2 linked regions of the Homo sapiens genome follow. The protein of the gene in region 2 purifies or fractionates together with the protein of the main gene of each other region. This does not show direct contact. Each region holds a gene or a part of one and is shown on either strand. Other genes may lie near its edges.

Region 1 (7,868 bases), on a different chromosome or scaffold from region 2:
ACCTCCCAGGTTCAAGCGATTCTCCTGCCTCAGCCTCCCGATAGCTGGGATTACAGACATGCGCCACCACGCCCGGCTAATTTTTTTTTGCATTTTTAGTAGAGGCAGGGTTTCTCCATGTTGGTCAGGCTGGTCTCGAACTCCTGACCTCAGGTGATCCGCCCCCCTCAGCCTCCCAAAGTGCTGGGATTACAGGTGTGAGCCACTGCACCCAGCCAGCCTTTGCCTCTTTTAAAAAGTTCTAAGTTGCTAGCCAATCAGGACAAATATAGAATGTGAGGTCCTGTTCCAGCCAATGGAAGTCAGACACAGCAGTAGGGTGGACGCTTCAGGTTATAAATGACCCTGTCCTGTTTGTTCAGTGTACTCTACTGGCAAAACTGCTGGCGAGTGTACCCTTTCTGCAGAAAGTAAAAATGGCCTTGCTGAGGATGTTAAATTTATGTTCAAGTGCTATTTGTTTTTTGTTGTTTTTTTTTTAGATGAAGTCTCGCTCTGTCGCCAGGCTGGAGTGCAGTGGCACAATCTTGGCTCCCTGCAACCGCTGCCTCCCAGGTTCAAGCGATTCTCCTGCCTCAGCCTCCTGAGTAGCTAGGACTACAGGCGTGTGCCACCATGCCCAGCTAATTTTTTGTATTTTTTGTAGAGACGGGGTTTCACCATGTTGGCCAGGATGGTCTTGATCTCTTGACCTCATGATCTGCCTGCCTCGGCCTCCCAAAGTGCTGGGATTACAGGTGTGAGCCACCGCGCCCGGCCGTAAGTGCTACTTCTTTACGGCACTGGGGAACAAGCATTTCTAACAAGATCCCCCAGGGAGTAAACAAAGTTAAAGGAGAGGTCCAAAGGACTGAACCCTAGGCCACTCAAGTTTCCAGGTTAGAGGAGAAAGAAGCTGCAAAGGACACCGGAAGGGATGGCCAGCAGTAAAGAGAAAACCAGGAGAGTGTGGCACCCTGTGATTTAAGAGAAGAAAGTGTTTCTAAGAGGAAAGAGTGAATAACTGGGTCAATTGCTGCTAACAGGTCTAGTAAAATAAATAGAGTATGAGTTTACCACTGCATTTAACAAGGTGAAGGCCATTGGCATTCTTCATACGAGCAGTTTTGGAGGTGATAGAGGCAAGAACCTGATTTGGGAGGTTTAAGGAGGAATAGGAGGAGAACTGGAGAAGAGTACAGAAAATGCTTTCCAGGAGTTTTGCTATAAAGGGAAAAAGAGAAATGGGACAGTAGCTGGAGGGGGATGTGGGAGTCAAGAGAGGGTTTGTTAAACTTCAGAGAAATTACAGCAAATTAGCACATTTGGGTTTTGTTTGTTTGTTTTTGAGACAGGGTCTCCCTCTGTCGCCCAGACTGGAGTGCAGTGGTGAGATCTCTGCTCACTGCAACCTCGACCTCCTGGGCTCAAGCAATCCCTCCACTTCAGCCTTCTGAGTAGCTGGGACTACAGGTGCCTACCACCACACCTGGCAAATTTTTGTATTTTTGTAGAGACAGGGTTTCACCATGTTGCCCAAGCTGGTCTCGAACTCCTGACCTCAGATGATCTGTCCACCTCGGCCTCCCAAAGTGCTGGATTACAGGCGTGAGCTACCGTGCCTGGCCGAAATCATCTTCTTTCTAAATCTGTTCCTTCTTCTGGTGTTGCTATCTCATTTGGTAGAAATTCTATTTAATTATCCAATTTAGAAAACTGCCATATAGTAGTGTCTTCATGGTGAATGATAGTCACAATTTCATCATGTGCTAAGTGAAGCAAGGGATGACACAGGGAGCTGTGGATACTGAGGAAAGGGGTGTGACCAGACTTGAAGGTCAAATATCAGAAAGGTGAAGATATACCGGTCAGGTCAACATCATCAAGCTGTAGCAAGTCCTCATTCTGTCCAAGGCGTTTGAACCAGAGTGACTCTATCTTGAATGGGGGCTGGGTAAAATAAGGCTGAGACCTACTGGGCTGCATTCCCAGGAGGTGAAGACATTTTTTTTGCCTGAGTTTCCCACCGTCGCCTGGGATGGAGTGCAATGCCACGATCTTGGCTCACTGTAACCTCCGCCTCCTGTTCAAGCAATTGTCCTGCCTCAGCCTCCTGAGTAGCTGGGATTACAGGTGCCCGCCACCATGCCTGGCTAATTTTTGTATTTTTAGTAGACCCAGGGTTTCACTATGTTGGCCAGGCTCATCTCGAACTCCTGACCTCGTGATCCGCCCACCTTGGCCTCCTAAAGTGCTGGGATTACAGGCATGAGCCACCATGCCTGGCCTAAGGCATTCTTAGACACAGGATGAGATAGGAGGTCTACACAAGATACAGGTCATAAAGACATTGCTGAGAAAACAGAATGCAGTAAAGAAGCTGGTTAAAACCCACCAAAACCAAGATGGCCATGAGACTGACCTCTGGTCGTCCTCACTGCTTATTATATGCTAATTATTATACGCTAATTATTATACATTAGCATGCTAAAAGACATGCCCACCAGTGCATGACAGGTTACAAATGCCATGGCAAAGTCAGGAAGTTACCCTATATGGTCTAAAAAGGGGAGGAGGCCAGGCGCGGTAGCTCACACCTGTAATCCCAGCACTTTGAGAGGCCGAGGTGGGCGGATCACCTGAAGTCCGGAGTTCGAGACCAGCCTGACCAACATAGTGAAACCCCGTCTCTACTAAAAAATACAAAAAAATTAGGCGGGCGTGGTGGCAAAAGCCTGTAATCCTAGCTACTTGGGAGGTTGAGGCAGGAGAATCGCTTGAACCCAGGAGGCGGAGGTTGCAGTGAGCCCAGACCACACCATTGCACTCCAGCCTGGGCAACAAGAGCAAAACTCCGTCTCAGGAAAAAAAAAAGTCTTCTCTGCCTCACTATACAAAATGCAAATCTCCATTATAGCACTCAACAGCTGTATATCTTCAGTGGGTACTTTGAATAAAGGTCTTCCTTTTTTTGTTTTTTTTTTTGTTGTTATTGTTGTTTTATTGTTGTTGTTATTGTTGTTTTGTTTTGTTTTTGTTTTTTTTTTGGAGACAGAGTCTCGCTCAGTCGCCCAGGCCGGAGGGCAGTGGCGCGATCTCCGCTCACTGTAAGCTCCGCCTCCTGGGTTCCCGCCCTTCTCCTGCCTCAGCCTCCAGAGTAGCTGGGACTACAGGCGCCCGCCACTACGCCCGGCTATTTTTTTTGTATTTTTAGTAGAGAGGGGGTTTCACCGTGTTAGCCAGGATGGTCTCGATCTCCTGATCTCGTGATCCGCCCGCCTTGGCCTCCCAAAGTGCTGGGATTACAGGCGTGAGCCACCGCGCCCGGCGGCAAGGTCTTCCTTTCAAGCCATAACTCTCACCTGTCCCTGTCTCAGAAATTGTGGCCCTCTCACGCCAAGCTTTTCTCTTCTGTGCCTTTGCTCCTTGTGGTTTCTTTTTTTCTGGAATGGTGTCTTTCTTCTATCCTGGATAAGTCCAACTCACCCGTTAAAAGCGGGCTTCGGAATTACTTCTGGGAAGCCTTTTCTCAAGTACCCCGAAGCCTCCCAAGACTGGGATGGGGATCTTTGTATTTCTACCGCTCACTCCCTAACCCACTTCCAAGGGCAGGGACCACATCTTACTTTCTTCTGCCTTCAGCGAATTTTTTTGTTTTTTTTGAGACGGAGTTTTACTCTTGTTGCCCAGGCTGGAGTGCAATGGCGTTATCTCGGCTAACCACAACCTCCGCCTCCCGGGTTCAAGCGATTCTCCTGCCTCTGCCTCCCGACTAGCTGGGATTACAGGCATGCGCGACCGCGCCTTGCTAATTTTGTATTTTTAGTAGAGACGGGGTTTCTCCATTTTGGTCAGGCTGGCCTCGAACTCCTGACCTCAGGTGATCCGCCCACCTCGGCCTCCCAAAGTGCTGGGATTGGATCCTTGAGCCACGGTGCTCGGCCCAGTGAATGTTTATCTAAAGAATTCAGCCTAAGGTTTTCCAGCAGGCAAGCAGCTGAGTCAGAAGTTAGCGCTTAGATTCTGGCAGAGCTCTAATTCAAATTCAAAATTCTTAAATATCCTCACTTTAGTAGAGTTCTTTACAGTTTGCAAAACAATTCTCATAAAGCTACTCTTTATGTCCTGGGGCAGGAGTCGCAGAAAGGAAATGTTTTAAACCAGGAGCTAGAGAGGAACTAGAAAATCCTGGCATAGAGGTAACAGTCTTGAGAAGGGAGCCAACAGCAAACATGACCTTGCGCACCAGAGAAACTCCACCCTGGCACCTCGGACCCCCGCCCGCACAGTCTGCGGCGCACTGAGCACTCCCACCTCGAAGACTACAAATCCCAGCATGCCTCACAGTCAGTGGCAGGACGCAGGGCATGCCGGGACACGTAGTCCCACCCTAGCACGGGAAAAGGCCGGAAGGTCCCATGACGTCAGGAGGGCTCGGGAAAGGGGTTCGGAACCGGTCTAGGCTCAAGTTAAATCTCCCTCTAAAGAGCCAACACTGGTTTCTTTGGCGACTCGGTTTCTACTCTAAACAGGTCCCGCTCCACAGTCTGGGCGGGCCTGTGTGTGCGTTGAGTAGCCTCTAGCGTGAAAACTTCATGGTTAAAAGGGAAGTACCGGAGGCAAGAAATAGCTTTCGAGGCACTGGTTTGTTAGAGTAGTGGTACGTAGTGCGCCGCCCTGAACGGGGGCTGAGACGCTGCTTTTCCAGAAGTGCCAGTGAGGACGTGGCAAGACCGCCTCGGACGTACGCTTCCTCTACCTCAGCCCGTCGGGTTAGGGGCGCGGGAGGCGCAGAGGCTGCTGGGAACGCGCATGCGCTCAGCGCGGCGGGGAGTCCACCTTTAACGTCCGCGGGCGCGGGGTGTGTCGGGTGTCGACGGCGGCGCTTTGCGGCCGGTCGTGCGGGTCGGGCGCGGGCGGGCGCGGCGGCAGTGGCGCGCACAGGTGATTGACTGGCCAGCTGCCTGAAGGAGCGCCAGGTCCTCCTTGCTGGCAGGTGGCGAAGCCCATTGGGGCGGCGGTGCAGACCGCGGCGGCGGCTGCGGCGGTCTGGCTCGGGAGGCGTTCCTGGGGCCAAGGCCATGGCCCCGCGGCTGCAGCTGGAGAAGGCGGCCTGGCGCTGGGCGGAGACGGTGCGGCCCGAGGAGGTGTCGCAGGAGCACATCGAGACCGCTTACCGCATCTGGCTGGAGCCCTGCATTCGCGGCGTGTGCAGGTGAGGCCCGCGCACCGCGCCTCGCGGGCTCCTCGCGCCGGACCTTGGAAAGCCCGGGCGGGGTAGGGGAAAGGAAGACGGCAGCCCTTTGCGTGCATTTGGGAGGCGCGGAGCCGAGCGAGGTGGAGTTTCCCCCTTTGCGCCGTCTGCGCGACCTGGGAAACGCAGGCTTCCCGGGCTGTGCGCGGAGGTGATGCTGGCCAAAGCACTTTAGGAAGGTTTGGGTTCCCATCCAGAAGATGGCGGTGGAGATGAAGGCAGGAGCTGAGAGCTTAGCAAGCGTTGATGGTTGGGGTATCTTGGCCACAGCACGGCTCTTTCGTTTGTAAAAAGGAACTTTTTGGAAGTGAGCTTCATCACAGTGTATCTTGTTGGTGTTGACACCGAAGGCCTGATCATCTTAGTATTATTTTTGTAGAGGGCAGCTTTAGAAAAAACTGTGGTCAGCCTACGTCATCGATACCCTGCACCCCCGTTGGCCTTCCCTCACTCGTTAATCTAGTATTTTTTTTAAGCCTTTCTTTGGTCGTTCTGGTTCGACACCAGTTTACCGAGTACCAAGTTTAAGCTGTGATAGTGCTGTCCTTCACGTCTGCGCCGCCCTTGAACTTTACCTTTCCTTAACCCCCTCATATAGATTGAATCCTTAGGCTTTGCTCCCGTTTATTCCCTTTTTTCCACCTTGTAACGCGGGAACTATAGTTTTTGTTTCAGAATGTTGTTGAAATTGACTTGGCCAAGCCGGGCATGCTCAGTAGCCGTCTTTCGGCAGGCATTTAGGAAATGCTTTCTGGAGTTTTTACATTCCGCTGGGGGATCCGGAAGGAATGGAAGTCATGGTCTCTGGCTTTGGAGCTTAAAGTCTAGTATGAGAAGTGAAATAAGTTAGGGAGTTTCTATAAAGCAAACGAATAAGTCCAAGCTCTGGGCGTCTGTCTCACAAGGAGGGTAAATCTGACTTTAACAGTAAGTTCTGGAATGTTTGAAGTCTGTGTATAATAGAAATAATCAAGCTTCAGTCAGTTTCTCAACGTAATTAGTTTCCAGACTAACCAAATAATGTAAACTACTAATAGTTCTGGTGGTTTTTGAGACAGGGTCTCACTCTGTCACACAGGCTGGAGTGCAGTGTCACGAGCTCGGCTCACTGCAACCTCCGTTTCCCAGGCTCAAGCGATCCTCCCACCTCGGCCTCCGGAGTAGCTGGGATTAGAGGCACGGGCCACCACGCCCGACTCAGTTTTGTATTTTTAGTGGAGACGGGTTTTCGCCATGTTGGCCAGGCTGGTCTCGAGCTCTGGGCTCAAGCGATCTGCCCACCTCTTCTGGGATTACAGGCGTGAGCCACCATGCTGGGCCAATTTCTGATATTTATTTATTTATTGAGACGGTGTTTCGCTCTTATTGCCCAGGCTAGAGTGCAATGGCGTGATCTCGGCTCACTGCAACCTCTGCCTCCTTGGTTCAAGCGATTCTCCTGCCTCAGCCTCCTGAATAGCTGGGATTACAGGCATGCACCATCATGCCCGGCTAATTTTTTTTTATTATTTTTATTTTTTGTATTTTTAGTAGAGACAGGGTTTCTCCATGTTGGTCAGGCTGGTCTCGAACTCCTGACCTCAGATAATTTGACCGCCTTGGCCTCCCAAAGTGCTGGCATTACAGGCGTGAGCCACCGCCCGCCAGGCCGATACTTTTTTTTTTTTCGAGACAGCGTCGTGAGACGCTGGATAAATTTAAAAAAATAAATTTTTAAAATAAAAATTTTAAAAGAAAAAAGAATAGGCCGGGTGCGGTGGCTCATGCCTGTAATCCCAGCACTTTGGGAGGCCGAGATGGGCGGATCACGAGGTCAGGAGTTCGAGACCAGCCTGGCCAGCATGGTGAAACCCCGTCTCTACTAAAAATACAAAAATTAGCCGGGGGTGGTGGCGGGCGCCTGTAATCCCAGCTACTGGGGTGGCTGAGGCAGGAGAACCCTGGAACCCGGGAGGTGGAGGTTGCGGTGAGCCGAGATCACGCCACTGCACTCCAGCTTGGGCAACAGGGCGAGACTCAGTCTCAAAAAAAAAAAAAAAAAAAAAATTATCTTATCTTGGCTCTGTATGCCCTGTATGTTCCGCCTCTAAATTTCCCTATTCTGGACATTTCATATAAATGGAATCCTAAAATACGTGGACTTTTGTGACTGATTTCCTTTACTTATGTATTTAAGGGTCATCCATGTTGTAGCATGTTTCAGCACTTCATTTCATTAAAAAAATACCTGGGAAATACATATGACAGTGTTTACCATTTTAAAGTGCACAATTCGGTGGGTTTCAGTACCTTTATAGTGTTGTACAACCATCACCACTGTCTGGTTCCAGAACTTTTCATTATCCTAAAAGGAAACTGAGCATCTGTTAGTCACTTCCCATTTTCCCCCCTCGCCCAGCCCCTGGCAACTGCTAATCTACTTTCTGTCTCTGGATTTCTCTATTAATATTTCATAGCAATGGAATTATACAGTACGTGGCCATTTGTGTCTGGTTTCACTTAACGTAATGTTTCCAAGGGTTATCCCTGCTGCGCATGTGTCACTACTTTATTCCTTACGGCTGAGTAGTATTCCATTTTATGGATAATACCACATTTTATATATCTATTCATCAGTTGAGGGACATTTTGATTA
Region 2 (7,388 bases):
CTCACGCCTGTAATCCCAGCACTTTGGGAGGCCGAGGCGGGTGGATCACAAGGTCAAGAGATTGAGACCATCCTGGACAACATGGTGAAACCCTGTCTCTACTAAAAATACAAAAATTAGCCTGGCGTGGTGGTGCACGCCTGTAGTCCCAGCTACTCAGGAGGCTGAGGCAGGAGAATCACTTGAACCTGGGAGGCGGAGGTTGCAATGAGCCAAGATGGTCCCATTGCACTCCAGCCTGGCGACCGAGCGAGACTCCGTCTCAAAAAAAAAAAAAAAACAGAAAAAGAAAAATGGAAAGGATAAACTGTTCTTACCTATCAGGCTAGCAAAGGTCAAAAACTTTGAACAGACTTCTATTAAAAGCTTGGAAAACATTTCTCATATGCTGGTTCCATGATGCATGAAAGGAAACTTGACAACATCCTTCAAAATTACAAATGCACATATCCTTTAACCCAGCAATTCACTTTTAGGAATTAATCCTACAGGTACAGACACACACTTGAAATATGAATATTAATCACAGAATTGTACATTACAGCAAAAGATATGAATGGGGAGCCTCTATTTACAGTTTTAAAAAAAAAAGTCCAAGATATGAAACAGCAGCTACAGTGTGCTAGCATTTCTATAAAGGGTGACTATATTCATATTTGCTTGTATATGCTAAGCTCTCTCTGGAGGAACATGCAAGCAACTGTATCATCAGTGGCCTCAGGAAGTGGGGGCAGGGTGGCTGAAGCAGGGGTTAGGGAAACACGGTGTCGATATTTTGTTGTAAATATTTTTATTCCTTTCCAATATTAAACCATGTGCTATATTACCTATTCAAAAAATAACTGTTTTTAAAGGCAAAAAGAAAAAAAAAAAGGGTGGCCCAATCATACAATAAATACATATACATGTGACCAAATCTGGGATTATGGTTTATAGATTGAAAAGCAGAAAGGGTCTATTTCTCCTGTACATGTGTTTTATTCTATCAATGCTTGGTTTGGTTTTATTCATCACTACAGTTTTATTTTAAAATTTTACAGAATTCATTCTAAGTTTTATTCCTCATTACGCTTTTATTTTTAAATTGTACAGAACTTATTCTAATATTTAAACAGAAATGTTTGCTTTTTCTACATAAATAGGTTAATATCATGTTTATCTTTATTATGTCATTTTGAGAAAAATAGAACGCTCAATTGAGTGCTAAAGATTTAAGCTCAGAGATATGCACTTTATGTTCCAAATGTATAAAATGCAAACTATCATGCTGATAATACCTACTAAATACTCTGCATTTCTAGAAAACTGGATAAAATTAAGGCATATAAACCTCCAAGTGGGATTTACATCCTTAGTGCAAATCAAACACAACCAGGGAAAACAAAGCTAATAAATCTAGAAACTTGTATCTTCTATAAGGCTAAAAACACAACTTGCATTACAGAAGTAGAATCTTAACTGTAATGAACTCCAATATCACTAAATGACATTTCTGCCAGTTACTTTTTTTAAAAAAAAAAGTGAAACAAAGTAATCTCTGTTTTCCATGAGCTTATAAAACGACTTCATGCTTTATCAAAGAACATCAATTACGTCATCTGAATCTACTCTCTTTTTTTGAAATAGGAATTTAAGTCTAGGTAGTTCCTCCACAATTTCCTTTATGTCCAAGTAAAATAATCCTCGATATAGGTGGAGAGAAAGGCATAACTGAATTAACTCAAAAAAGCAGAAGCAGATTAATTAGTATTCTGATAAAAAGAATATAATCATTTGGTAAAATCTGCGTTGAATTGTAAAGGTTCATTTTAATTACCCCAACTAGGTAACTGTGCAGTTGGAGCATAACAACTCCTTTACGTTCGACTCTTCCAAGACTTTGTAAGTGGCACTTATTTTAATGATATAGAATTTTGATGATATCGCCATTCTTGTAACGTGACAAATTATCTAAATCACAACATCTGCGGTCAGGCTGTTTCTCAAGATTTCTGTTCTCCTGCCAACTAAAGAGGCCCCGACTACTCCTTGGCGCGCACACTGAGGCCGCGCTGCAGGTCAGCACCGAAAGAGCCCCGCACGGATCCCGCCCCACAGGTGCGATTTACACAACCCACATCACCACCACCCCTCCCAACTTCACCACCTCTAGGGTCACCACCCTGTGGGGTTTTGTCTTTACGACTAAGCCGATTCCCTCTGCCTCGCTGGGGAATCAAACTTCCCAGTGACAACGACAGCGGCCAGCACGGGACGTCCACCAGCCCGGCAGGGCTTGACGCTGTCTCAGACCCGGGGAAGGTCCGGAGTCCGGGCACGGTGGCGCGGGGTGCGCAGCCCTGCCCACCTGCCCTACCTGGTGCGAGCCCCGGCCCCGGGGACTGGGGAGCCAACACGGCCGAGCGGGCGTGGGCAGCAGGGCGAGCGCCGGGAGAGGAGAGCGACGAGGGGGGGTCAACGGAAAGAGCGGAGTAGGGGTGCCAATCGAGGAACTTTGGATTTAGGAGGAGGGGGCCAGAACCGCCCCACTGAGGTTTCTTCCAGAAGTTCGGAGGCTTGGGAGAAAGGGGTGGGGAAGAGACCCGTAGAGGCTCGGGTGCGGCGGCGGGGAGGATCCCCGGGGTCTCTGGGCTGACGGAGTCTCCGGCCTCAGGGAGGAGTCGCCAGGGCCGCCGAAGCCGAACTGGCAGAGGAAAAGCAGAGGAAGGCGGCGCGCGAACTCGCCAGCAAAGGAGGGCTGCGCTGCTCCCGGAGCGGAGCGCCTCGCAGCCCGGACCGCGGGACTCACCGCGCTGGCGGCGGCGGCGCCAGACGACGCGGGGCCGGGCACGTCCTGCCTCCTCAGGCGGGACTTGAGGCTCTTCATGGCTAACTCTTGCCTGGCCCCCGCGCGAACCTTAAAGGCTGCGGAGTGCCAGCGCGCAAGGAGTAGACGGCAGCGGCTGCAGCAGAGGCGGCGCGGGCTGTACCAGCCCCACCTGCCTGCCACCTGCGGGCCCCGGGCAGCAGACGTCGACAGGCCTGAGGCGGGGCTCCCCTCCCGTAGCCAATTGACCCGCTGCCCTGGCGGGGGCGTGGCAAACCGCGACCAATCGGAATGCGGGAATGGGGCGGGACTTCCCTTTTAAACTGAGTAACACCCTTCCTCTCCCAGCTGGAGGAAAAGTTTGGGAACTTTAGCCCGGGAAGGGGCGGAGGAGGTGGGCGGCCAGAGGCGTGGAGATGCGCGCAGGCCGGGCTCCAGGCCACCGGCGCCCGCCCACCCGGAGCTTAAGATCTAGAGAGAGCACGGGGTCCCGCCTTTGCCACCTCTCATCTTCCCGGACTCCCCTCCTCTTTCCACCCACGCGCTCTTTACCAAGTAAAGTTCCTTCCCTTCCGTCTGGTCTTAGAAATGACTCTTGGTTACCTGCACACAGAACAGCTTTCAGGAGCAACTTCTTTTCAGTCTCCTGTTTTACTACCAAATCCTGGTGCCTGGAAACCACCACACGCATCAAAAATTCCAGAAATAAACAGTCTCTAAGAAATAAGGTGCTGATTGTGCAGAAAAACGTACAGTTAAGAAAGACCTTGAAAGACGTTATAGTAAGTTACAGTACAAGTTACGTGCTCGTTTATTTGTTGAGTGAAGAATCCGCCGTATTGGAAGCAAAGGGACGGAATGGGGGCGGGGAGGGAGGAGAAGAGGTGCCATCAATTAAAAATGACTCCCACAGCCAGTGATTTAAGTTGTCAAAAAAAGTTACGCCCTTTTTTCTTCAAAAAGGTTTTTTGTTTTCTGTAGAAACACATTACATGTAAACGTATACGATGAAGTTAAATCATCTTACCTAGAAATCTGGGTTAGTAAAAATTATTTAAGAGGATGAAGAAACAGGAAGGTGCTCAGCACCCAATAATTTGCTGTTCGGGTGACATCTTCAAAAGTCTTCTTTGGAGTCATTTTTCCCCCCAGCAAAACGTTTATCGTAGCATGCATCCATTTGAAAAGACAAACGGTCCACATTTTCTGACTAACAAAGGACTCTTTTTTGTCTGAAAGGTCAGTTGCTCTCTTTAGAGTTTCTTTATAGTAACGCAAGGTTTTCTTCAAATACTGTAAGAAAGTTTTCAGAATTTCTTGGAGAGGCAGCATTCAAAGACTGTGTTAACCCTATACAACAAGTAAATAACAACTAACTACCCAAAAATATTATTAAATTTCATCTTGATTAGATCTTTGGAAGAAAATTTTCTTTGATTCCTCCCCCTTCCTCTAGATCTCCAGTCATTTAGTTCTTGTTGGCTCTTTAAAGTGTCTGTGTATGGTCAGTTACTCTGTTCTCACTGCCACTGCAGAGCCAAAATTACCTCATACCCGGACTATTATTACAGAAGCTTCCCAGCCAGTCTCCCAACCTTCAGTCTCTTAATTGTCCCATCACCAATAAATTATCAGCCATCATCAATAAGTCTTACAAAAATACTCCTCTTGCTCAAAAGCCTTCAGCAGCTAACGAATAAAATCTAATTCTTTGCATTTAAAGCTGTATAACGTGGACGCGACCCTGTTCTCTAGCCAACACCCCAAGCGAATTACTCTTCAGCCCATTCTCCAAACATGGGTCATGGCTTTCAACTTCCACATCTTTATGCATACTGATCCCTCCCCCAATAATCTTCTGTCTGTCTACATTCATCTCAGAAAATCCTACTCCCCCAAGAGTGATTGGTAGGGGATGTCGGGGGCTTCTGGAATACTGTACTATTCTCTGTGGGTGCTGGTTACATATCTAGTGTTTTCAGATTGTGAAAATTCAATGAGCCTGTACTGTATGCAATATATTCTCTTTTATGTGTGTGTTATGCTTTAACAAAAAGTTTGTTTTTAAGTGTATGTCCCTTCCAAGTGCCCTCCTCTCTATAGAACCTTCCCTGATCAAGTAACTGGAAGTGATCTCTCCATCCTCCAAATAGTTACAGCAATTATACCTCTCATATGATACTAACACATATGAGCTGAGCAAACCTTATTTCATTACTGGACTTCAATTTACTTAAAATTGGGGAATAACTGACATATATTTGAATTCCCTAGAATGCTTAGCATGTTATAGGTGTTTAATAAATATTTCTGAATGAATTGATGCATTCTTATTGACTACTATAGCAAATTATGGTTGTTTGTTCTATGTATTTATGTGACACAGGATTGGGATTCCCCCTATTGTGAACACAGATGGAATGATCTGAGGCTATGGTCCTGCTCAAATATTTGTGTCTCAATCAACTCCTTTCTCTGGGCTTAAGATAAGCACCCATTTACCATCTAGTCCTCTGACTGAATCTTAAATGTTAATTGCTTACAAGAGCACTGTCTCAGTAATTGGCTCTTGAGTTATTAATTGCAGTGTTATGTTGTACTGGTTGTCTCCTGTAACATCCAAGTTATCATAGTCCTGGTGACTGGCCTCCTTTTCTGTTGTTACTGGATAAAGCAAAGGAAACAGACAGAACCACAAGTATAGCTTGCATCAGGTTCCAAAAATGTTGGGCAAGTTATTTTTATGAACTGTCTGGATGATGTCCCCATGGTGTCTGTGTCCAGTGGCCTTTATGGATTTTTCCAGCCTAGAAACTTGATAGCTGATGTCTGCTTATTCCCATTTGAGAGCAGCTAAGTAAATAGCACTGGTCTGAATATTCAGTAAAGCTTTTTTACATTGATCTGGAAGCTGCCTATATGAAGTAAAGTCACTATTATTAGCATTCAACCAGACAGGTTGGGTTTTATTTTGTTAACTCTTATCACTATTATTTATTTTTATCTTCCCTTCAGAGCAAAGGGCACTTATCAAACCTAGATGACCTTTTGTTTGTTATCACACTGAGCCTATATAAAATATTTTTTTGTTTTACTTCTTTTTTTTTTCCAATATTTATTTATTTACAATATATACCAGGAAGGGTAATGCATTTTTTAAAATTACTTTACTAGATTATATATACACATGGTAATCTCAAATAATACAAATGGAGCAAGTTGATCTGCTTACCACCCCTATTTTGATCCCTGCTGTCAAGGAACTTGTGTTCTGGATTAGATAACAAATGTGTAAGCTGTATGCTAACACATACAGTTTAACTGGACAATCGCTTACTGAATCGTGTAGTAAGATTGCAGATGGTATTTAGGGAAGGAAAAGATCAACAGATAAGTTTGCCTGAAGGGAGGCTATCCAAGGTTGAGTATCCATTCAATGAATACCAACAGGTGAGAAGTAATACCAGATGGGCAGAGGATACCCAGGGGACCTGCCAGAACAGGGAAGAGAACACAGTCGACAGATGCTCACTGATAACTCAGATGATGATAACGGCAAAAACGATGACAAATATGATTTCTCAGAAGAAGAATAAAGAATCCACACAGAGGGCCGGGCACAGTGGCTCACACCTGTAATCCCAGCACTTTGGAAGGCCGAGGCGGGTGGATCACGGGGTCAGGAGATCGAGACAATCCTGGCTAATATGGTGAAACCCCGTCTCCACTAAAAATACAAAAAATTAGCCAGGCGTGGTGGCAGGCACCTGTAGTCCCAGCTACTCTGGAGGCTGAGGCAGGAGAATGGCGTGAACCTGGGAGGTGGAGCTTGCAGTGAGCCGAGATGGCGCCACTGCACTCCGGCCTGAGCGACAGAGCAAGACTCCATCTCAAAAAAAAAAAAAAAAACAAAAAACAAAAACAAAAACAACAACAATAAAAAAAAGAATCCACACACAGGCCGGGCATGGTGGCTCACAACTGTAATTCCAGGACTTTGGGAGGCCAAAGTGGACAGATCACTTGAGGTCAGGAGTTTGAGACCAGCCTGGTGAACATGGTGAAACCCCATCTCTACTAAAATACAAAAATTAGCTGGGCGTGGTGGTGGAAGCCTGTAATCCCAGCTACTGGGGAGGCTGAGGCAGGAGAATCGCTTGAACCCAGGAGGCAGAGGTTGCAGCGAGCCAGAATAACGCCACTGCACTCCAGCCTGGGTGATAGAGCAAGACTTCATCTCAAAAAAAAAAAAAGAATTGACATACAAAGTCTAAAATTTGCACATAAAATGAGTCCTTTTCAAACATAAAGATCTCCTTCCAGACAAGCTTTAGTTATGAATTCTATATCCAATGACTTCCCTCTTCATTTTCAGAACTTCTTGCTGCTCCGAGTAGCCCTGGGGACCCAGTGAACAAAGCCAGTGAATAATTTCATGAAGGGGCCCATGACATCAGTCATTCTCTCAGATGCCAAAGCAAATGGCTGGCAGAACCACGTGTGGCCACAGAGTCATGAGGAAAGGCACTTCTACCCAGAAATCATAGGCAGCCCAGGAAATGAGAGACCTGAGGCAGTTCTC

What was found. The genes of interacting proteins can lie anywhere in the genome.
Region 1: the proteins of UACA (region 2) and USP48 purify together in Homo sapiens (affinity purification with mass spectrometry; 2 studies listed by BioGRID, with this or other methods). This does not show direct contact.

The regions. Positions count from the first base shown.
Region 1 is NC_000001.11:21,780,150-21,788,017, reverse strand, and holds the start of USP48 (ubiquitin carboxyl-terminal hydrolase 48), read left to right. Parts: upstream 1-4,868; 5' UTR 4,869-5,060; coding exon 5,061-5,194; intron 5,195-7,868.
Region 2 is NC_000015.10:70,760,542-70,767,929, forward strand, and holds the start of UACA (uveal autoantigen with coiled-coil domains and ankyrin repeats), read right to left. Parts: upstream 3,018-7,388; 5' UTR 2,867-3,017; coding exon 2,789-2,866; intron 1-2,788. UniProt on the Homo sapiens protein: Regulates APAF1 expression and plays an important role in the regulation of stress-induced apoptosis. Promotes apoptosis by regulating three pathways, apoptosome up-regulation, LGALS3/galectin-3 down-regulation and NF-kappa-B inactivation.